Homo sapiens: one gene and its partners. The protein of the gene in region 1 interacts with the protein of each later gene in a pairwise test. Each region holds a gene or a part of one and is shown on either strand. Other genes may lie near its edges.

Evidence for each region.
Region 2: the proteins of ITGB3 (region 1) and PTPN1 interact in binary tests that used the Homo sapiens proteins (3 or more experiments, as listed by UniProt).
Region 3: the proteins of ITGB3 (region 1) and CX3CL1 interact in binary tests that used the Homo sapiens proteins (3 or more experiments, as listed by UniProt).

What each region holds. Positions count from the first base shown.
Region 1 is NC_000017.11:47,256,519-47,264,215, reverse strand, and holds part of ITGB3 (integrin beta-3 precursor), read right to left. Parts: intron 1-7,697. UniProt on the Homo sapiens protein: Integrin alpha-V/beta-3 (ITGAV:ITGB3) is a receptor for cytotactin, fibronectin, laminin, matrix metalloproteinase-2, osteopontin, osteomodulin, prothrombin, thrombospondin, vitronectin and von Willebrand factor.
Region 2 is NC_000020.11:50,576,383-50,583,382, reverse strand, and holds part of PTPN1 (tyrosine-protein phosphatase non-receptor type 1), read right to left. Parts: intron 4,964-7,000; coding exon 4,754-4,963; intron 4,216-4,753; coding exon 4,054-4,215; intron 3,681-4,053; coding exon 3,457-3,680; intron 2,119-3,456; coding exon 1,923-2,118; intron 692-1,922; coding exon 668-691; 3' UTR 1-667. UniProt on the Homo sapiens protein: Tyrosine-protein phosphatase which acts as a regulator of endoplasmic reticulum unfolded protein response. Mediates dephosphorylation of EIF2AK3/PERK; inactivating the protein kinase activity of EIF2AK3/PERK.
Region 3 is NC_000016.10:57,367,653-57,375,489, forward strand, and holds the start of CX3CL1 (fractalkine isoform 1 precursor), read left to right. Parts: upstream 1-4,837; 5' UTR 4,838-4,916; coding exon 4,917-4,986; intron 4,987-7,837. UniProt on the Homo sapiens protein: Chemokine that acts as a ligand for both CX3CR1 and integrins ITGAV:ITGB3 and ITGA4:ITGB1. The CX3CR1-CX3CL1 signaling exerts distinct functions in different tissue compartments, such as immune response, inflammation, cell adhesion and chemotaxis.

The DNA.
Region 1 (7,697 bases):
CCCACTTTGAGTTCCCTGAAAATCAACACCTCTCTTCAACTTTGGGACCTCCAGAGCTAACCTAAAATAACCAGTCAGGGCTCTGCTGCCTTGACCAATCAGGCCTCAGTTGTTTCAACCAAACAGAACTAAGCAAGTTGGAATTGTTCATTTGCATAAGTGGACCTCATCAGGATCCTAGGCAGGAACTTTCATTATAAACCCCCAATTCTGACACCAACAGCTGAGTTTCCCCAGTTTCCAAACTGTTCATTGGAATAAAGTCTTTCCTCCCAATTCCTTTTCAGAGAACTTTTGTTCACAAGGGAAAAACAGGAAGGATTTTTGTCTGAGCAAGGGGATTCCCTGTACACAAAGTTCAAATGTCTTGACCACTGGCCATATCCTTTCATTGACCCTTCATGCTGTAAGAAAATAAAGCAGGATAGGCCGGGCATGGTGGCTAACACTGTAATCTGAGCACTGTGGGAGGCCAAGGCGGGTAGATCACCTGAGGTCAGGAGTTCAAGACCAGCCTGGCCAACATGGCGAAATCCAGTCTTTACTAAAACTAGAAAAATTAGCTGGGCATGGTGGCACGCACCTGTAATCCCAGCTACTTGGGAGGCTGAGGCAGGAGAATTGCTTGAACATGGGAGGCGGAGTTTGCAGTGAGCCAAGATCGTGCCACTGCACTCCAGCCTGTGTGATGGAGTGAGACTCTGCCTCAAAGGGAAAAGAAAGGGTGGGGGTGGGGGGGGCGGGGAATAGCAAGCAATGAGGGAAGGAGTCTCCTTTAAAGCATGTGGTCAGGAAAGGTCTCTCTGTGGAGCTGACACTTCAAGATGATGTTAATGGGAAGATCTAGGGCAGGTCCTGTCCTTGTAAATGAAGCCACATTATGTCTGGTTATCATCTCCAATGAGGTTAATTAGGTCGCCATGTGCTGAAGACTGCATAAAGCCCATTCCAGGGACAGAGTCCTGTCTTCTCTAAGGTTGTGGTCTAAAATTAACACCCAGCTCCTGAGAAATGTGGTAAGGCAGGAGCAGTAAAACAACAGATGGATATGGCAGAAAAAGCATGCAAAGCAGCAGGAAACCTCACGTCTAAAGCCATCTTTGCCCTTCCTCTGGCCGTATGACCTCAAGTACATCCCTTCATCTCTCTGGTGCTCTCTCCAAGGCCCAGTGCCTCTTTGAGTCTATGTCACATTCATAGTCGAGAAGTGATAACTGCTCTGTAGTATTTAACGGGTCTAACCAGCCACATCGGCCAAGCACCGGAGACTCCAAACAGCTGCTTCCTTTCCCCAGTGCTCCCGAGTTGTTAGGATTAAATGACATAACACGTATGAAAGAACCCTCTATAGTGGATGCTCAATAAATGTTCATTTCCTTCCCCCTTACTTTCACTCTAGTCACTTCCTACACCAGGAATCCCCATCCCCTCGCCTCCACCTCAGGGTCAGACGTGAAAGGGCCCTTTGTCTCTAACAGGATATAGTGAAGAAATCACTCTGGGCAGGAGACAAGAGTCCCCAGGGAGAGACCCAACCAATGCCACTGAGCCAGTTGTATGATCTTGGACAAGTCACTTCACTTCTCAGGAACTCCCTTTTTGCTTTTTTGTAAAACAAACAGGTGTCAAATTTGATGATCTTCAAGGTGCTGCCAGTCCTGGAAGTATCCACTCTTCCAGCCAGAAAACATCAACAGGGGGACTCATACCCTAGGAAGCCTAGCAACCCAAGGCATGAGAACCCTCAAACAAGGCACAAGTGGCCATTTCTTCCTGATGGCCTGATATTTGACTCAAACGCTGCATCTCAAGAGTTCTGGAAATTTTTATTAGCATCGACCCCACCTCATTCAGTATACAGAAGAAGCAGGTCTGTACCAAGCTGTCCGAGGCTCAGCCCAGGGGTGCCCTATTGGTGACCTCCTTGGCATCCTGCTGTCCAGTTCTGCAGCCTTCCTCCCCCAGCTCATGTGTTATGGGTGTGGACAGCAGGCCGCGGTGCTAACACCAGTCCTTACTGCCAGCCTGTCTTGGTAGGAAAGCAAACTGGTTCAACCGTTTGGGAGGACAAATTGACAACACCTACTAAAATTTAAATTTAAAATACGCATGCCCTTCGACCCACCAACTTTCATTCAAGAAATTAAGTCTGTAGAAACACTTGAACAAAGGTGCATAATAAATGAATAAGGATATCCCCTGCAGCTTTATTTGTAGTAGCAAATAATTGGGAATGATCCCAATGTCTGCCAACAGGGAATTGGTTAAGTAAATTCTGATATATCCATATAACAAAGAGTATGCCTTATGGCTAGAATTATAGCTCTTGGGATAAATAATGGAAAGCCATAAACTGACATAAAAAGATGCCTAGAGTATATTATTAAGAGACAATGGGCCAGGTGCGGTGGCTTATGCGTGTAATCCCAGCACTTTGGGAGGCCGAGGCGGGTGGATCACCTGTGGTTAGGAGTTCAAAACCAGCCTGGCCAACATGGCCAAACCCTGTCTCTATCAAAAACACAAAAATTAGCTGGGCGTGGTGGCAAATGCCTGTGATCCCAGCTACTCGGGAATCTGAGGCAGGAGAATTGCTTGAACCCAGGAGGCGGAGGTTGCAGTGAGCTGGGATCACACAACTGCACTCCAGCCTGGGCGACAGAGTGAGACTCCATCTCAAAAAAAAAAAAAAAAAAGACAATGATCCTATTATTGATTATCCTATTTGAGAAATAACAATAATGATAAATAATTATATATGTTGACAAATACATAGAAAAAAACTCTGCAGTAACTATCAACAGTGGTTATCTTTAAGGACAAGACTACAAGGAACTGGTACTGGTACTTTCTGCATTATATTTCTGAGCTGCCTTTTTTTAAATAATAAGCTTAATTACTTTTATAAGCTAAAAGAAAATTAAAGCTAATTTGAAATGTCCTCTGTTCTGCCTCCCTGTCGACATTTGCATTTATTTAAATGTAGGCTCCCCAGAGTCTGCTGGGCTTTCCACAAACTGCACCTTCAGCATCAAAACCTCTTGGAATGGCAAACTCAGCAGGAACACAGAAATGAGCTTTGGGGTATGGTTTGCATGAGGAGATGCTGGTCAAGGGATATAAATTTTCAGTTAGACAAGAGGAATAAGTTCAAGAGATCCACTGTACAACATGGTGACTATAGTTAATAACCGTATGTCATCTACCTGAAAATTGCTGGGAGGAGATTTTTAAGTGTTCTCACCACAAATAAATCAGAAGTATGTATGTGAGGTAATGCATATGTTATTTAACTTCATTTAACCATTCCACAATGCGCACATATTTCAAGACATCATGTTGTACATCATAAATATACATAATTTTTATTTGTCAATTTCAAACAATAATAATAATAAAAGAGAATGGAAAAAAAAAAAGGAATAAACTTTGTCAGGCCCACTCTCACAGCCTTCAAGAACTGCCCAGGGCAGCATGGTCTGTTCTCAACTTGTGGAAGTCCCAGAAAGGAAACACCACCCTCCCCTCCACTGGGGATTGGTCAAACATGCTCCTTGCAGGCGGCTCCAGCAAAGGCTCAACCTGGAGTTCAACACGTGCGATGGCTAAAGTTGGGGTCTGGAGCCATCAGTGGATCTCACAGACCCAGGTTTCTCTATCCAAAATTTCCATTAGCAAAGAGATGTAGGGTTGACTACAGGGACTTTTTAAGTGGCTACTGAATATGTCTTTTGCCAAACTTCTGGAGCTCTCTTCTAGTGCAAAGTTTTTCAAGCTTGATTTTAACAGCAGGATCTTCTTTTTTTCCCAAAGAAATCCTTACATGAACTCCAAATTGTTAATTAGTTAAAGGAGTTCCAGTTGAAGGTGGTGGGGAAGGGGCAGGAGCAAATTGAAGTATTTCCCTTCATCTTCTCTGTCCCACTTTGCAGCCCCTGGGACACCAAGAGACTGATGCCTAAAGGTAAAGTCACTTGTTCAAAGTCACCCAGCAAGCTGATGAAAAAGCCTGCAGAACTGTGAATCGAATGTAGGTTTCTTAATTCCAGATACGTTGTTCTTTCCACACTGAGCTTTTTTCTATATAAAAGGAAGTACTATATATCATGGGTTTAAGTAAAGGAATACACACACACACACAAATAAACATAAATGCGAGGGGAAATGTCTAAACAGAACACACCACCTGATTAATATGAACATTATAGGGGAATAGAATTAGAAGGGAACCAGCAATTTTAACGACTGACAATGATCCTATGTGGATGAACCTATTTGAGAAATAACAATATTTGTTTTGTTTTGTTCTGTTTTTTGAGACAGAGTTTTGCTCTTGTTGCTCAGGCTGGAGTGCAATGGCACAATCTCGGCTCACTGCAACCTCTGCCTCCTGGGTTCAAGCGATTCTCCTGCCTCAGCCTCCCGAGTAGCTGGGATTACAGACGCATGCCACCATGCCCAGCTGATTTTGTATTTTTAGTAGAGACAGGGTTTCTCCATGTTGGTCAGGCTGGTCTTGAACTCCTGACCTCAGGTGATCCGCCCGCCTCGGCCTCCCAAAGTGCTGGGATTACAGGCATGAGCCACCGCGCCCAGCCAAGAAATAACAATATTTGTTATTTTGACTTTTTTAAAATGTGTATCACCTTGTTCTTTTTCTTTCTCTCCTTGAATATTTAAACATCTTCACTAACTGAACTAAGAAATTGAACTAACTCAACTATAAAACCGAGAGAGGGGGGTAAGTAAATAGTCTTTTCATGGGAACATGACAGAAAAACAGAAATAAGACATCTAGTGTTAGATCTAGTGTTAGAATTTGTCTAGCAAGCTTTCTGGTTTTGGCCAAAAAGCCACCCACCCACCCACCCTCCCAAAAAAAAGGAAAAAAAAAAAGTCAAGTGGGTTGTTTTTTCAGAGATGCTACCAAAAATGTAAAAAGGTAGAATAGCCCCCAGGTTTACTTAACAACTTCTGACTCCAAGCATCATGACATACAATATTTGGCCACAAAATATCTGTTACTCCTATGAGCAAGAATAATAAGTGTTGGTTGCTACAGAATCCTCTCTAGTATCCTGAAGTCTTTAACTACTTAGCACATGGAAAATCTAATGACTTATATATAGCTAAATACATCTATCCAATTATAAAATTTAGAAGCTGAAAGCTGGGGAGCACCTCCAAAGTTTAACGGATCCAGTCCCACTGCTTTCAGGGTAACTGTTCCAACACGGAGGATGACGGAGTGGCCTCAGACAATGTCTTAGAGTTACTGATAGATGCAGCATCATAGATTAACCCCAAATGTATTGTGCTAAGTGAAAGAAGCCAGACTGAAAGTCTATACACTGCATGCTTTCATTTATATGACATTTTGTAAAACATAGAACTGCAGGGACAGGAAATAGATCAGCAGTTGCAACCGACGAGGGTTGAGGGTAGGGTATCGATTACAAAAGAGCTGGGGGGGCACCTGGCACAGTAGCTCACGCCTGTAATCCCAACACTTTGGGAGGCCGAGGTGGGCAGATTGCCTGAGCTCAGAAGTTCGAGACCAGCCTGGGCAATATGGTGAGACCCTGCCTCTAGAAAGAAAAAGAAGGGAAAAAAAGAGCTTGGGGGAATTTTAGGGGATGATGGAAAAATTCTGTATCTTGATGATGGCAATGGTTACTTGACTATATGCATTTGTCAAAATTCATAGAACTGTATGCACTAAAAAGGGTGAATTTTACTGTACATAAATTATACCTGAATTATCTAACAAAAAAAAAAAAAGAGTGTTTTTGGTGAGACTGTGTGTGTGGACAGAAAGGCAGATGCTATCACTTTTTTGCTGGAGAGTCTCACGTTTCAATAAATGCCAGCAGTTCCCACACGGGGAATAGGCAGTTCCCCTAAACAGAGTCATTTCCCTGCTCCCACCTTCATTTCCACTAGTGGCCTGAGCTCCATCAGGCACAATGAAGGTCCCACTCAGGAAGGGCCAAGGTTCAGGAAGAGGGAGCAGAGGCGATGGGGTGGAGCAGCCCACTCTGTGGGCAGCAGAGAGGGCTGGGTAAAACGAAGCGGTTCATCCCTGAAGCTGCTCAGTCACTCCCTCGGTTAATTATCTGTCTTCTGATTCATGAGTTGTGGTTCCTGTGGGCATGCTTCCTGGAGATTTCTGCCAACAAGGGAAGAAGGGTTCTTGGGACTGGGAGGGGATGATAACCTCAGATCCCAAGTAGGGTGGGGAGCTTTAGAGGAGAAATTTCGATCAGGAAATTCTAAAGTCATAGCCAGACTCCCCCTCCTCACTGTGGTGTGCTTGCCCCATCTTATGGTCTTCCCAGGAGACCTCTGTCACTCCTCACCCTTGCCCCAACACCCACACGTCCAAGGGGGAGAAAGGAGAATGTTGCCCTTCTAACGGCTCCTCCCAGGAGGGAAAAAAAGGCAGACACTTTACAGAGGATCCCTTGAGTTTTTCACACTCTCAGATCACAGGTCTAAATGGTGCAACAGTGCAGCGGCCCAAATGCCCAAAGAATTCATGATCTTGGCTATGTTTTCATACCCTCCAGATTATCCAAACGGAGCACTTGAGGATCTTGTATGAATGAGTGCAAATATTCAAATATTGGGTTTCTTAAAGGGAGGCACATCATCTATAGATGCCTTTACATAGCATTCCACAGATATTTGTTTTGCTGCCTATGTGCCAGGCAGTGGGCATAGAGTATTGAACAAAATAGACATGTCCCTCTTCTCATGGAACTTGAAGTCTTATAGATCCTTTTATCTTCCTCTTTTTTCAGATACAGGGCTTGAGGTTTTCTTATGGGTAAAGCAAATGTATAAGCCTTTTTCCTTCTTGGCTTCTTCTGTGGATTCTTGCCGGGTTAGAGTAGCTGAGATATGCCAAACCAGCAATGAGGAACGAGTTGAAATAAGAGGGACCCCCTCTCACATATGTGGGGGAAAGGGACCCCATCAGTTTCATTCTGGAAGCCTGCATAGCGCATATGCATGAAGTAGTAACAGCTTTTGCCTCCAATACATGGCAGATAGCATGGATAGGAAGAATAATGACAATAGTAGTTGTCATTCATTAAACACTTATTTTGTGCCTCTGTTTCATTTAATCAGCATAATCATAGGCATTGTTTCCTCTGCCTTACAAATGAGGAAACTGAGGACTCAAGAGATTAGGTAACTTATTTAAGGCCACACAGCCTACAGGAGACAAAGTCAAGAATCAAACCCACATCTTACTGGCTTTAAACCATAGCCCTCCCTTTCCGAAGCCAACAAGCCTTCCTGCTGTGTTTCTCCAGGACCTGAGGATACCTGCAGAGGGCTTCGATTGGAGAGCTTCTAGGATATAAACTCCAGAAGAGAAATAAGCACCTCAGCTTAGACCTAATTAGGTCAGAATAAAAACCTAAACACGAGGAAGACACAAAACCCATACTTCCTGGGTGAAGCTAAAAAGATCATCTTTGTACATAAAATGAAAAACTTGATGCTATCCTCAGTCAATCTCTCTTCTCCCCAAAGCAGACTCCGCTACTCTGGGACAACCTCTCTGTGCCACTCAGCTCTTTCTGTGCCCCTTCAACACTTGGAGTCCCAACACAACTCTCCTACTCTCATCCCACCATCTGCTTCCCCAGGGATCTGAAGACCCTACCACCAACACTGGGATGGCA
Region 2 (7,000 bases), on another chromosome or scaffold:
TTATATATTATAGCATTGTTCTATCTTCTCACGTTACCCACAATATCACTAAATAACAACTGCTTACAACCGTCCTCCTTCCCAGTACTGGTCTGACGCAGCAGGCCCATGGCAAAGCCTTCCATTCCCAGTACTACCTGAGGATTTATTATTGTACTTTTTGATAAAGCCCTTGATGCAAGGCTGACATCAAAAAATTTTAATACATTATTGGTTCAAGAAAATGCTAGTGCACTATGGATGCCTTTGGGGAAAAAATTGTTTAAATAAATATGGAGTGGAGAGTTGCTCCCTGCAGATTCAAGGGGGGGGCTGTTGGCGTGCCGCCCGCCTGGGATGCTCCAGGAGGGAGCCCTGGGTGGGGCGAGCCCCAAGACGGGTGTAGGCCCCTTCCCTCTGCGCCGCCAGCATGGTACTCTCTTTCACTCTCCTCAAAAAATGGCTTGTGGATTTGGTACTCAAAGTGGAAGGGGCAAAAAGTAAAAGGATGAGGGGTGAGACACACATCCGGGGAAGATGGGTTTTAGTGCAGAACCAACGTCCGTCCGGGGCCCGGCTCTCTACGCGGTCCGGCGGCCCTTACCTACCGCGGCATGCCTGCTAGTCGGGCGTGGGCTCTGCGGGCAGAGGCGGACAGTGGGTGGAGGTGGAGTGGAGGAGGGTCAGGCTATGTGTTGCTGTTGAACAGGAACTGGAATGAAACCAAACAGTTCAGATGAGCCCAGACCCGCACCTGCAGAGCTGTCGCCTCATGCATGACCCCGGCCACACCCCCCGGCAACTTCAACCTCCGAGGGAGCAAAGGGGGTTTTGGTTTTATTTTTTACAGTAGCCCCCTCTCCCCAAAAATCATCCCCAAGGAAAAAATTGTTTGCATTTTGCAAAACCATCTGATGTACTCAGATGCCACCTGGAAAGAGGTAAAATATTTAAAACCACGAAAAAGTCTTAGGAGGTCATTTCCATGGCCAGAGCTCTGAGGCTAGTCCTCTCTCTTCCCCTTACTTAACAGCAACACACGTCTAACGTGTGAATTTCTGCTGAAATGGCACTTCTCCCAATGAGGTGGAGCCCACTTCTCTGAATTAACAGCGGGTTGACATGCCAATGGCCACCCTGTGGTGACCTCTGACCCCCAGGCAGAGGCCTCGAGGACACCCATTTATGGGGATGGGGTGATGAGGGCTGGTACATGAGCAAGATGGCTGTCACAGGAGGGAGCAATGGAGAAAGGACAATGGAAACCCAGCGGGGACACCCTGAGCAGAAGCAGAGGCAGGTTCTGTTTTTCTAGACGGCCTTTTGTTGCTGTTCTTCTTATAGTGGGAAAGCTCAAAGACCCTGTCCTGGCTCAGTGTGCACACAGCTGAGGGGGGCTTGAGCGCAACAGCGTCCTAACCCTCTTCTCCAAGGGAGTTTACATTCGTAAAAGTTTGGGATTCCTTCCCTGGGAAATCAAATATAAATTATATGGCTGATTACATCACCTAAGGGTATGAGAAAGTTTCATAAGTGCCTACTTTGTTTTTTTTTGTTCCAGAAATAACAAAAAGCTGCTTTTTATAAAGGTTAAAAACAACAATGTGTTGTAACTCTATTTTTTTCCAAAAACAAAGGAATAAAAAAAAAAAGAGAGAGAGAAACAGACGTATTTGGCATTTTCTCTACTTACTCCTGAATAGGTTAAGGCCCTGAGATTAGACTCTTATATTCTTGGGACCAGAGGGCTCCTTAAAACCCCAGTGCATCGATCCTTAATTCTCTTGTTAGCCCTTCCACAGTTCCAGACTTTAAAAACCTTTGATCTGTTTCTTCTGAGACTGGCTCAGATGCACCACAGAACTGAATCCTACCATCGGGCTAGCGGCCAGTGCTCTCTGCACACGAGCATCTCGCCAGCGCGTCTGTCAGTGGAAACATACCCTGTAGCAGAGGTAAGCGCCGGCCGTGAGGACCGTAGCCACGCACATGTTGACCAGGAAGGGCTTCCAGTAACTCAGTGCATGGTCCTCGTCCTTCTCGGGCAGTGACGGCTCCCCTTTGGCTGGGGAGGCAGCCTGGGCACCTCGAAGACTTCCCCCCACGACCCGACTTCTAACTTCAGTGTCTTGACTCATGCTGAGGAATCAGAGGGCAGAGATGGGTTACTCACTTTGGAGAAAATGAATGGCAAGGATGCTGCTATTGTGGCAGGAATTCTAGGAAAAAACAAGCCACGTGTAGACAGAGTTGGATGATGTTAACCTTCCAGCGAGCCAGCCCCCTCTGCTTGGAGGGAGGGCCAGGCCAGGGCCCACATCAGCCTGAAGTCCACTTGTCACCCCCTCCCCCAGGTACTTCAGATAGCACCCACACCCAGGGTAGGGTTCACAAGGTGCCTGGGCGACTGGTCACTGTGAGGATTTATCTGGCTGGAGGACTCACTGGTGTACACACTACTGTATGATTTGCCTTCTCATGTACTGCAATTGCAATGTCTGGCCACATCAGTACACCCAGATCTCATTCTTTAAGAGCTACAGAATATCCCAACACCGGGAGAGAACATAATTGATCAGGTCCCTGGTTATATCATTGGCCTGTCTCTAATTTTTCACTACTACAAACAATGCCACAACAAACACAACTACCTATACACATCTTTACACGCTTGTTTTGAGAGTTGCTGCAAAGTAAATTTCTCCATGTATACAACTGCTGGGTCAAGTATGCACACGTCTTAAAACTTCCCTCCAGAAAGCAGGTACCAAGGGCACAGCCGGCAGTCATCTCCAGCTGGAACTAACACCTGCTCATTCTGCAAACTTTCCGTGCACGGCCACCTACTGCAAGCAGCCTTCCCTGACCACCTCAGCGGACACCTCTATCACATCACTGTCCATGGGCCCCCACCAAAATATGCTTTGGGTCTGCCTTTTTCCCAGCAAGATGGTCTAGAACACAGACCAGGGGACATGTTCTAGTTAACTCAGTACACCACACATATCAATAGGTACTCAATAATGGTTGTTAACCTGCAAGGAAGTAAAATGGGATTTAATCAAGACCACATAAAAAAGGTTACATTCCCCAAAGGACCACTGTGGGGACTGAGGGCACTCAAGCCTGGACATCACATTTCAGGACTGTCCGGAAACCTGGGGGAGGGCGCTGTCGTCAGGGGGGGCAGAAAAACCCTACTCGGTGGCTCCGAGCCCCTCATTCCAACAAGCACCACAAGGTGGCACTAGAAGCCCACAGAAGTGGCTCATGTCCTGCGGCCACCCTGTGCCCAATACCGGACCTCCAGCAGCCAGGAGTGGAGTGGCTGTGGTCCACGCGCCCTGTTCCCCAAGGATGCGGAAGCGCTGCTTGCCAACAGGAGGCTGCATCCACAGGGTTTCAGTACCAGCGTGTGTTTCTAGAACAGAAAGTCATTTCCCCTCACCCCAACAAGCTGGGACCCAATCATATTACCTTTCGATGCCGTAGGGTGCGGCATTTAAGGGGCTTCCTTTTTCTTCCTTGATGGGGCAGTCTTTATCCTCCTGGGTCTCTTCCTTCACCCACTGGTGATTTGGGAAGAACTCCCTGCATTTCCCATTGTGTGGCTCCAGGATTCGTTTGGGTGGCCGGGGAGGTGGGGGGATATGCTCGGGTGGGGGCTCCAGGTCCTCGTGGGAAAGCTCCTTCCACTGATCCTTGAAAGAGCAGCAAGAGGAAGTCCTATTAGTGTTCACTTCGGCTGGTTTGTCAGGAAATCCCTTTGCATGAGCAGAGGTGACGGCTTGGCGAGGGGCTCTCGGCCTCTCAGGGCTGCAGCCATGTACTTGGAAGATGAAATCTTTTGAAAATAAAGTCTCGTCTTCCTATCAATGCTCTCTATGTGAGCACTTCAAAGGCACAAAGTGCAACATGGTGAACATTTTGACAACTTTCTAGCTATTTTAAACATGAAGGGTAGCTATTTCCCCTGACACCAGACGGTGTTTGAACTTTTACAACTGACAGCCTCCTTCAAAGACAAAAAAGTTAAAATGGTCACACCTGGATTCAAACAAAGGCAATGCTGACCTGCACGGAAGAGTCCCCCATGATGAATTTGGCACCTTCGATCACAGCCAGGTAGGAGAAGCGCAGCTGGTCGGCTGTCTGGATCAGCCCCATCCGAAACTTCCTCATTTCTAACAGCACTTTCTTGATATCAACGGAAGAAGGGTCTTTCCTCTTGTCCATCTGAAAGCCAGAGAGGAGATATAAGTCAGCCAGGTCCAATTCTCAAGGGCAACGTTAATAACACCGTTAGATGTCTGTCCCCTCCCAATCTCATGCTGAAATGTGATCCCTAGTGTTGGAGGTGGGGCTGGGTGGGAGGTGTCTGGGTCAGGGGGACAGGTCCCTCATGAAAGGCTTGGTGCCCTCCCTGAGGCAATGCATTCACAAGAGAGCTGGTTAAGAGTCTGGGACCTCCCCCATCTCTTGCTCCTGCTCCCCTTCACCTTCCACCATGACTGGAAGCTCCCTGAGGCCTCCCCAGGAGCCGAGCAGATGCTGGTGCCATGCTTGTACAGCCTGCAGAACCGGGAGCCAGTTAAACCTCTTTTCTTTACAAATTACCGAGTCTCAGGTACGCCTTTATTAGTAACGCAAAAACAGACTAACACAGTGAGTCTCTGTATTTTGGAAGAGGAGCGCTTCAGTTTCTACTTAGGAAAAAACATCACAGCAGAGCAGGTAGAGGAGCTCCCCAGGGCACCCGCGAGGGCCTCCTTACCAGCAAGAGGCAGGTATCAGCCAGACAGAAGGTTCCAGACCTGCCGATGCCTGCACTGCAGTGCACCACAACGGGCCCGTGCTCCGGGCTGAGTGACCCTGACTCTCGGACTTTGAAAAGAAAGTTCAAGAATGAGGCTGGTGATTCAGGGACTCCAAAGTCAGGCCATGTGGTATAGTGGAAATGTAAGATCTCTCGAGTTTCTTGGGTCTGAAAGAGAAAAATACTCATGATGATTCTAAAAGAATCATCTGTACAGAAATCACTAATTCCAAGTACACACAGAGTCACCTTCCACTCTCTACCTCTAAGAGGAACATTCATTCTCAGACTTTCTCCCAGGGTCCACACACCCAGTCAACAAATACCACACCCTGGGGCCAGGCCCTGGGCTTGACACTGAACCTGCAGGGTGCGCCTGCTTAGACTTCATTTCCCTTCGGATTGAAGAGTCCCCTCACCTCTTTTCTCCCTATCACTTCCACTGTCTACATGGTTACAACTGGTTTCTCTCTGTCTCACGAGTCACAATGATGCTGGGCAGCCACCCATAAAATCTTGTCATAAAGCCCTGCAAGGCCTCCCGTGAAAAAGTGAACAAGGAACAGCAGGTGAGGCACTGGCTCTGGGCAACTTTCAGACGGGGGCTTCAAGATGATCTGGAGGTTTCAGAGGATTGTCACTTTAGAGAAAAAAGTAGCAGACTTGGTCTCCAAAGACTGGTGACTCCAAGGTGTGGCTCAACACCCAGCTGAAGAGGCAGTCAATGCGAACGGCATCAGCCCATGAACCGAGTGTGTCCTACGTGCTGGCGCTGCGCTCTCCCACCAGCTGCTCCAGGCAGGCACTCCCATCCATTTTCCGATGAGGAGGTGGATGTTTGGAGGCAGAGAGTCCATGCTGAGAGCCTGCTGCAGACACGTTTGAAAGGTGGACCCCAGCCCTTGTCCCAGAATGTCTCTTCCGTGGCTGGGTCTGCCCCAGAGGAACAGAAGCAATGGCCTGGCGTCTGTTTCCAGCTCTGCTCCTTCCTTGAGGCTTCTGGCGGCTGTGATCAAAAGGCAGCCCTCACTGGGGGGAGTACGCAACATCTTCAATGACCTAAGAGCTCCTAGTAAATGGGAACCAGTCACTTGGTAAGCAAGGCCCTGAGAGGGAAAGGGCTCTGGAAGTGAAAGTCTCCTAACATGGGCCCGGGAAGACAGCCACAGACAGGAACCATACCAGCCTGGAGAGTTTCCCTGTGGCCCAGTGCCAGGGCCACCTGGCGAGCAGCTGATGGCAGAAGGATTCAGGCCAGAGATCTGCTCATGATGCCTTCCTTCACTTGACGAATGTCCACACTATGCCAATCATGTGCCAGTCACTGTGCCAGGGAGGCGGGGGCAAAGACACCACCTCACCCTCACAGAGCTCATGGCATAGTTACTAGGACCTCCCCCAACTCTGCTGGGATGAAAATAATACATATTTAACCCTGCCTCAGCCATTAAATACACTAGTAAATAATATTTAATGTTCATTAAATATTAAATACAGTATCTTGGCACAGAACAAGGAGAAATTTGTGTATGTTAGGATAATTGCTAGACTCACACTAGGCAATTCCATCATTCTTTCCTCTCTAGAAAATGGTATCCATATAACCTTAATGACATTAAAGAAGAAGAAATACCTCTTCTATTTGGTGGGTGGAGGCAGGTGGGGAAGAAAAGGACTTAAAATGTATTTTTAAAAAATTATTATTATTATTTTGAGACAGAGTCTTGCTCTGCCGCCCAGGCTGGAATGCAGTGGCATGATCTCGGCTCAATGCAACCTCCGCCTCCTGGGTTCAAGCAATTCTCTGCCTCAGCCTCCCGAGTAGCTGGGATTACAGGTGCCCGCCACCACGCCCGGCTAATTTTTTTTTTTTTTGTATTTTTAGTAGAGATGGGGTTTCACCATCTTGGCCAGGCTGGTCTTGAACCCCTGGCCTCGTGAACCACCCACCTCAGCCCCTCAAAGTGCTGGGATTACAGGTGTTAGCCACCGTGCCCGGCCGTTAAAATGTATTTTAAAATTGAATAAGAAGCAAGCATGCCAAATGCAAGTTTTCCTTTAATCCTTGAAGGTGTGGGTTACCGCCCACTGACACCCTCCCTCACACCTGCTCACCTCTTTCACAAGGAACTCATTCCAGCCTTGTGCTAGAACAGACAGCTATGGCTGAGAAAAGCCTTTTAAAAACAAAGTCTGTTGGAGCAA
Region 3 (7,837 bases), on another chromosome or scaffold:
AAATTAAGAATGAGAACACCGTATAAGACAATGGACTTGACTTTGCTCTTTTTTTTTTTTTTGAGGCAGAGTCTCACTCTGCCGCCCAGGCTGGATTGCAGTGGCGCGATCTCAGCTCACTGCAACCTCCACCTCCAGGGTTCAAGCAATTCCCTAGCCTCAGCCTCCCAAGTAGCTGGGATTATAGGTGCATGCCACCATGCCCACCTAATTTTTGTATTTTTAGTAGCGACGGGGTTTCACCATGTTGGCCAGGCTGGTCTCAAACTCCTGACCTCAAGTAATCTGCCTGCCTTGGCCTCCCAAAGTGCTGGGATTACAGGCATGAGCCACCACACCCGGCCGACTTGACTCTTAAGAAAGTTGAAGTCATTAAAAAATGTGCAAGTGGTCTGTGTAGACTCAAAAATACCCATATGCAGTGCATGAACCTAGATCGGATCCTCGTTCAAAAGATAAAAGCAAGGAGGGAATAAAGGAAAGAAAGAAGGAAGGGAGGGAGGCGCCAGGTGTGGTACCTCACGCCTATAATTCCAGCACTTTGGGAGGCCAAGGTGGGCAGATCGCTGGAGCCCAGGAGTTTGAGACCAGCCTGGGCAACATGGGAAAACCCCATCTCTACAAAAAAAAAAAGTACAGTAATTAGCCAGGCATGGTGGCGTGAGCCTGTGGTCCCAGCTCCTCGGGAGGTTGAGCTGGGAGGATCGCTTGTGCCTGGGAAGTCGAGGCTGCAGTGAGCTGAGATTACACCATTGCACTCCTGCCTGGGTGACAGAGAGGGACCCTGTCTCGAAAAGATAAATAAATGGCCGGGCGCGGTGGCTCATGCCTGTAATCCCAGCACTTTGGGATGCCAAGGCGGGTGGATCACAAGGTCAGGAGATAAAGACCATCCTGGCTAACACAGTGAAACCCCATCTCTACTAAAAAAAAAAATACAAAAAAAAAAAAAAATTAACTGGGTGTGGCGGCGTGCGCCTGTAGTCCCAGCTATATTTGGGAGGCTGAGGCAGGAGAATGGCGTGAACCCAGGAGGCAGAGCTTGCAGTGAGCCGGGACGGCGCCACTGCACTCCAGCCTGGGTGACAGAGCGAGATTCCGTCTCAAAAAATAAAATAAAATAAAATAAAATAAAAATAAATGAATAAAATAAAAAAGAAAGGGAGTGAGGGAGAGAAGAAAGGAGGCAGGAAGAAGGAAAGAGGGAGAGAGGAGAAACCACAAAATACATTTTGGGGACAATTGGAGAAATTTGGGTATGAACTGGGTGTTAGATGACATACAGGAATTATTGTTAATTTTGTTAGATGGGATAATGATATTACATGTATGTAAGACAATAGCTTTATTCTAAGGAGATGCATGCTGGAATATTTAGGGGAAAAGTGTCAAGCATCTATAATTTACTTTGTAATGGTTTGGCTAAAAAATAAAAATAAAAAAGATAAAACAAATATTAAAAAATGCTAATCATTGGTGGTAGAGGTTTTGTTTGTTTGTTTGTTTGTTTGTTTGAGGCAGAGTTTCTCTCTTGTTGCCCAGGCTGGAGTGCAGTGGTGCAATCTCGGCTCACCGCAACCTCTGCCTCCCGAGTTCAAGCAATTCTCTCCCAGCCTCCCAAGTAGCTGAGATTACAGGCACCCGCCACCACACTCAGCTAATTTTTTGTATTTTTAGTAGAGACGGGGTTTCACCATGTTGGCCAGGCTGGTCTCCAACTCCTGAGCTCTGGTGATCCACCCACCTCGGCCTCCCAAAGTGCTGGGATTATAGGCGTGAGCCACTGCGCCCAGCCATTGGTGGAGATTTGAAAGTCTTTGTACGATTCTTTCTTTTGTATTGTTGAATATTTTCCAAAACAGAAATTTTAAAGAGACAAAGCAAAATTCTGCCCATCTTCAGATGGAAAGATCATCTCTCTCACCCACCTTTCTTGTTTCCCCAACAAGCATGCAGTTCTCCCTTCCTGCCCGAGCCCACAGCCTCTAGCCCTCTGGTAGGGCTGGCAACTTCTCTCTCCTACTGAGCTACAGCTCCTGGGGGCAAGGACTTCAGCTCACTTGCCTTTGTGTCCCCCATCCCACCACATTGCCTGGCACACACCGGGCTCAATAACAGATACTAATGCCTCCTGCGTGCCAGGCACTGTGAAAGTCCTTAGTTTTATTCACTGTCGTGGTGGCTTGATGAGGTGGCTGTTTGCATCCCATTTTACATATAGGGAAGCTGAAATGCAGAGAGAGGTTAAGTCACTTGCCCAAGGGAACACCCCTTATCCGTGGTGGAGTCCTGCTGATGTATTTATTTATTTTTTTTCAGATAGGGTCCCACTCTGTGCCCAAGCTGGAGTGCAGTGGCATGATCATGGCTCAATGCAGCCTCAACCTCCCCAGGCTCACTTGATCCTTCCACTTTAGCCTCCTGAGCAGCTGGGACTGCAGGCACAGGCCACCACACTAATTTTCGTATATTTTTTGTAGGGAGGGGGTTTCACCATGTTTGTAGAGAGGGGGTTTTGCCAGGCTGGTCTCAGATTCCCGGGAATCTGCCTCTGCCTCCTGCCTCGGCCTCCCAAAGTGCTGGGATTACAGGTGTGAGCCACCACATCCGGCCTGGAGTCCTGTTTAGCCTTGGGTCTGGCTAGCCTGAAAGCCTGGTTATTGTGTCCAAATTAAATCTAAATTCAGTTCTTAACATCCTAATGAGATAGATGGGGGTGATCATTCCCATTTTATGGGAGTAGAAGCTGGACCTGGGGAGGGTAGAGGGTGTCCAAAGGGTCAAATGAGGAAAAGCAGAGCCGTGCTTTGCATTTTCGCTTCTATTTTATGCCAGGCTCTGTCCCGTACCCTATGGACATAAACTCACTTAGTCTTCACATTGGTCCTCGCAGTGAGGGTGGAGGCAGGTGGTGGACCCTACTGGTCTTGAGCTCAGACCTCAGAGCCAGCTGGCTGGGACGAATCCAGGATCCCTCATTTCCTGGCTGGTGAACCTAAGAAAATGTCTTTTTTTTTTTTTTTTTTTAGACAGAGTCTCACTCTGTCACCCAGGCTAGAGTGCAGTGGCGTGATCTTGGCTCACTGCAACCCTCTGCCTCCCAGGTTCAAGCGATTCTCCTGCCTCAGCCTCCCAAGTAGCTGGGATTACAGGTGTGCACCACACCCAGCTAATTTTTGTATTTTTAGTAGAGACGAGGTTTCACCGTGTTGGCCAGGCTGGCCTCGAACTCCTGACCTCAGGTGATCCACCCACCTCAGCCTCCCAAAGTGCTGGGATTACAGGCGTGAGCCATCGCACTCGGCCTCCTCCTCTGTTCTTACATGAACAGAGCAGAAAGAACACGACCTCAGTTTTTATCCCTCCTTGTCCCTCTCTGGGCCTCAGTTTCACCAGTTATAAAAAGAGGGATTGGACATTGGGAATGAGAAGGCTACTAGCTTCCCATGTGCACAGGCCAGGACAGATTCTCTGAGCATGAGTGGACCTTGGCTCCTGCCAAGGGTGTTCCGCTACTTCAAGAAGTATCTAGCCTCCTAACCCCTAACCCCATGCACCAGGCAGCCCATTGGGTTGGGTGGGGGGGCGGGGGGGGGTGGTTGAGGAGAGAGAGGTCCCTGGCCTTGGGATCTGTGGCCCCTCTGCCCAGCCCAACTGGCTCATAGCGTGGGATGCTGGCTCCACAACTGGTTTCCCTCAGATTGGCAGCCTGGAGACACCAGTACAGCTCAGTCCTATACCAAGGCAGAGCTGCTGACTCTTCTGGAGTCTCAGGGATTGTTGCCACTGCCTTTAGGGAAGGCTGCCATGAAGGCAGACTGTGTTCTAATGTGCTCCCAAGGCTGGCAAGCCTCTGCACCCTTCGGTGAGAGCCTGTTGGAGGGCCGGTGCTGGGAAGCCCTCTCCCCATTGCACTAGCCCAATGCTCTCTTTGGGCAGATAGAGAACTCAGGCCCCACGAGAGGCAAGCCTTATCCAAGCCACGGCTACAGAGTTGAGGAGCCAAGAGCCACAGAGTTATCGGGGATGGGTTGGCAGCCACCTTGTTCTTTGGGCTAACAGGGGCCAGAGCAGAGGTGGGAGTGGGTGCAAAGCAGGGAGCGGGAGACCGGGAGGTGGAGGCAGGGAGGCCAGGGCTCTCTCCTGGGTCCTGAGCTGTCCACATTCTGCTCATCATGGTGGTGGGAGGGGAGTTCTCCACTCTGATGCTGTGGATAACCTGGGGTGGCTCCGGGCCTCAGTTTCCCCATCTATCCATATGAAGTTGGACTCAATCCTTCTTTCAGCAGACCCTGCACCAAGCCCCTGCTGACTTCAGGCTCCCTGCTGGGCTCTGGAGATGCATAGATCAACAAGGTCCCCCAGGAGCTTGGGATTCTAAGAGGGGAAATTTAGGGGTCCATCCTGATGTGGGCGAGGCATTCTCTGGATCAAAGAAGAGCTTGTCAGACCCAGGATGGAGGGGCCCTGAGTCTCTCCCGGCCCCTTGGCGCCCCGCTCTCTATTCCACGGCCTGCTGGCCTTTTGTGTGTTGCCCACTTAGGATCAAGGGCCCCAGGCCAGATCCTAGGGCATGTTCCCAGCTTGTGGCAGGAGAGGAGGCCTTTGTACCCAGGCAGGCCCAGTCCAGCCTCCCGGGGAAGGTCCCAGTATGACAAGCCTAGGATGGTGAGAAGCCCAGGGACACAAAGCCGGCTTGGTTCCTTGGCAACATCCTGAGGAATCCAGCGGCTGCACACTGGCTCCCTTCCTCTCCCCTCCCACCCTCCTGCCTGCGGGGGCTGGAGGCGGAGGCAGCCAACCCCATTATAAAAAGCCACAGATCTCTGGCGGCGGCAAGGGGACAGCACTGAGCTCTGCCGCCTGGCTCTAGCCGCCTGCCTGGCCCCCGCCGGGACTCTTGCCCACCCTCAGCCATGGCTCCGATATCTCTGTCGTGGCTGCTCCGCTTGGCCACCTTCTGCCATCTGACTGTCCTGCTGGCTGGTAAGTGGGGCTTGACTTGGGCACAAACAGGGTAGGGAGCCCCCAGCCCCTTGTCTATCCCTCAAGCCTGACATCAGGGGCCCCAGACCCTGCCTGGGTAAAGCTCAAGGCCGGTGGCAGCCGCTTCCCCAGGGATGTGCGAGAGGGGGCTGGGCACCTCGCTTCCCCCAGATGCAGCGCTGGACAGATTTCCAGTTGCCAGCGACCGCCCTGCCTGGCCCAGCGAGCAAAGTGGCTGTGCCTGGAAGCACAGAGAGGTGGTGTGGGTGGCATAAGGGAGCCAGGTGTGGGTGTGCCAGGAGGGCGGGGGTGGAGAGAGCCTGCAGAAGCTCCTGCTGGGCACTGGGGTGGGAGGCCCTGGCTGACAGTGGCTGGCTCTTTCCATCAAGCGTTAATGTGTAACCCGCAGCCCTGGCCCTGGGCCAGGCCACAGTTGGGACTTTCTCCTGTCCTGTTTTCAAAGCCCCCAGGATTAGGGGGCCCAGGACCAGTGAAGGTCAAGGTCACTGCAGCTCATGGTTGGGGCTTGCCACTGCTGTGCTAGTCTATAGCCCCAGTTGCTCTGCCTGTGTCTACCCGTCATGCTGTCTTCCTCCTCCAAGCACAGTGTAGAAAATGCTTTTGCCTCTAGTCACTTGCTTACTGAAGCCCAGGACCTGGTAGGGGTACATAATTAACCATCCTACCTGATATGGATAAGATGGAGGCCCAGAGAGGTTTAGAAACTGGCCTGACAATGCACAGCCAGCAAGTAGGGCAGGAGAAGGTAAGACACATGGGACTGAATGCAGGAGAGAGCACAGATGCACACTCACCACCTCTGTGGGCCACATCACCTCCATGAACCGCTAGCCAGCCCCCTCCTCAGGGAGTGCCCCCACCATCTGGCAGGGTGACCTTCAGAGAAGGTGGGCACACAGCAAGTCTGGGAGAATGAGAAGTAGTCCCCACTGTCCAGATATTTCCATGGAGCAAACTCACCCTGGGGCAGGGAGCAGGTGTGTGGGTGGGTGGGCACGTGAGAGTGGTGGAGGCAAATTCCTGCTGGCTTCCTGCTGTCTGGGCTGGGGCCCTGAAGCCTGAGGTGTCTGCGGACAGTGAGATCTGGAAAGCAGGGAGTCAGATGGCGGCTGCTTTGCCACAGTCCTGTTATGTGACCGTGAGCAGGGTCTTGCCTCCTCTGGTCCCAGTTGCTGCATCTTTAAATATAGCTATTACCTCTCCGGTGGATTGGGGGAGGGTGACGAGGTTCCAATGCCTATGGAGGTGTTTTGAAGAGGGCGGAGGAGGAGGATTACTTTTACTAAGCTGAGAGAGGGAAGGGTCCTAGGCTAGGATGGAAAGGGGACACTGGGGGACCCTGGGTGCTCAGACTAGCAGCCTGAGGCTTTAGAACCAGGCTTCTGCCCTCATCTTGGTCATTGGCTTTACTGGAAGATCCTGGGCATTATTGGAACCTTTCTCAGCCTCACTTTCTCCTCCTGTAAAACTAGGCATTTGACCAGGCTCACCTTGGAAGTCCTCTCCCACGCTGACATGTATGGCTCTGAGAGGCCCTCGGGAGCCCCTGTAGGACAAGGGGGTGGTTTGGAAGCCAGAGAGACCCCGAGAGGAGGCTGGGGGGTTCGTAGCTGCTGCCCTGACTAGTGTGGGGCAGCTGCGTCAGTCCCCAAATGTGGGTTTGTGGGGCTGTGTCAGGCAGGAGGCTTCTGTACTTTATATAACAAACCTGCAGCTACGAGTCAGTGCAGAGCATTGCCCCCCCACTCCAAGAGCTGACGCATTCACTCCCACTCAAGTCCTGGCAAGAAAGAGAAAAAAAAACGAATCTGTTTTAAGCTCCTATAGCCTACCCGCCTCATTAGCAGTGGGGGTGGATGGGGAGGGCATGGGAGGATAAATTCAAGAGTGTCAGATCCAGGCCCCTGTCTAATTTAAATAAAAATTCCTCCATTTTTCTGTTGGTTAAGGTATTATGCCACAAAGCGCTTCCTTAGGCATTTTGTCCATTCATTCAACAAATAGTTATTGGACACCTACTGTGTGACAAACCTGGTTCTAGGTACTGGGGCGGCATCAATAAATAAAACAGCCAAGGACCTCAGCCCTCGAGGTGCTGTAATTCAACTGCAGAGGACACATAACACACAAAGTAAATCAGTAAACAATGTGGTCTGTTGGAAGGAGAAAAGGCACTGTGATAAAAAAATAGAGAGGGGTGGCTGGGCGCAGGGGCTCATGCCTGTAATCCCAGCACATTGGGAGGCCAAGGCGGGCAGATCACCTGACGTCAGGAGTTCAAGACCAGCCTGGCCAACATCATGAAACCCTGTCTCTACTAAAAATATAAAATTAGCTGGGTGTGGTGGTGCATGCCTGTAGTCCCAGCTACTTGGGAGGCTGAGGCAAGAGAATCGCTTGAACCTGGGAGGCAGAGGTTGGAGTGAGCCGAGATCGTGTCACTGCACTCCAGCCTGGGTGACAGAGTGAGAGTCCATTTAAAAAAAAAAAAAAGAAAGAAAAGAAAAGAAAAAGAAAAATAGAGAGGGGAGAAGAGAGGTGTTGACATTTTAAATAGGGGGTTAGGGAAGCCCACTGAGTAGGTGGCTTTGCACAGTTTGGAGCGGGGTGAGGGCGGGAGCCATGTGGATATCTCTAGAGCAATGGTCCTCAGTGAGTAATTTTGCTCCCCTATGGGCCATTTGGCAATTTCTAGAGAAATTTTTTACTTGTTACAAATATCCCAATGTTTTTGGTTCAGTTGAGCTACTCGCCTCTAGTGTGTAGAGGCCAGAGATGCTGCCAAACCTCCTATAGTACCCGGGACAGCCCCCAAAACAAAGAATTGTCT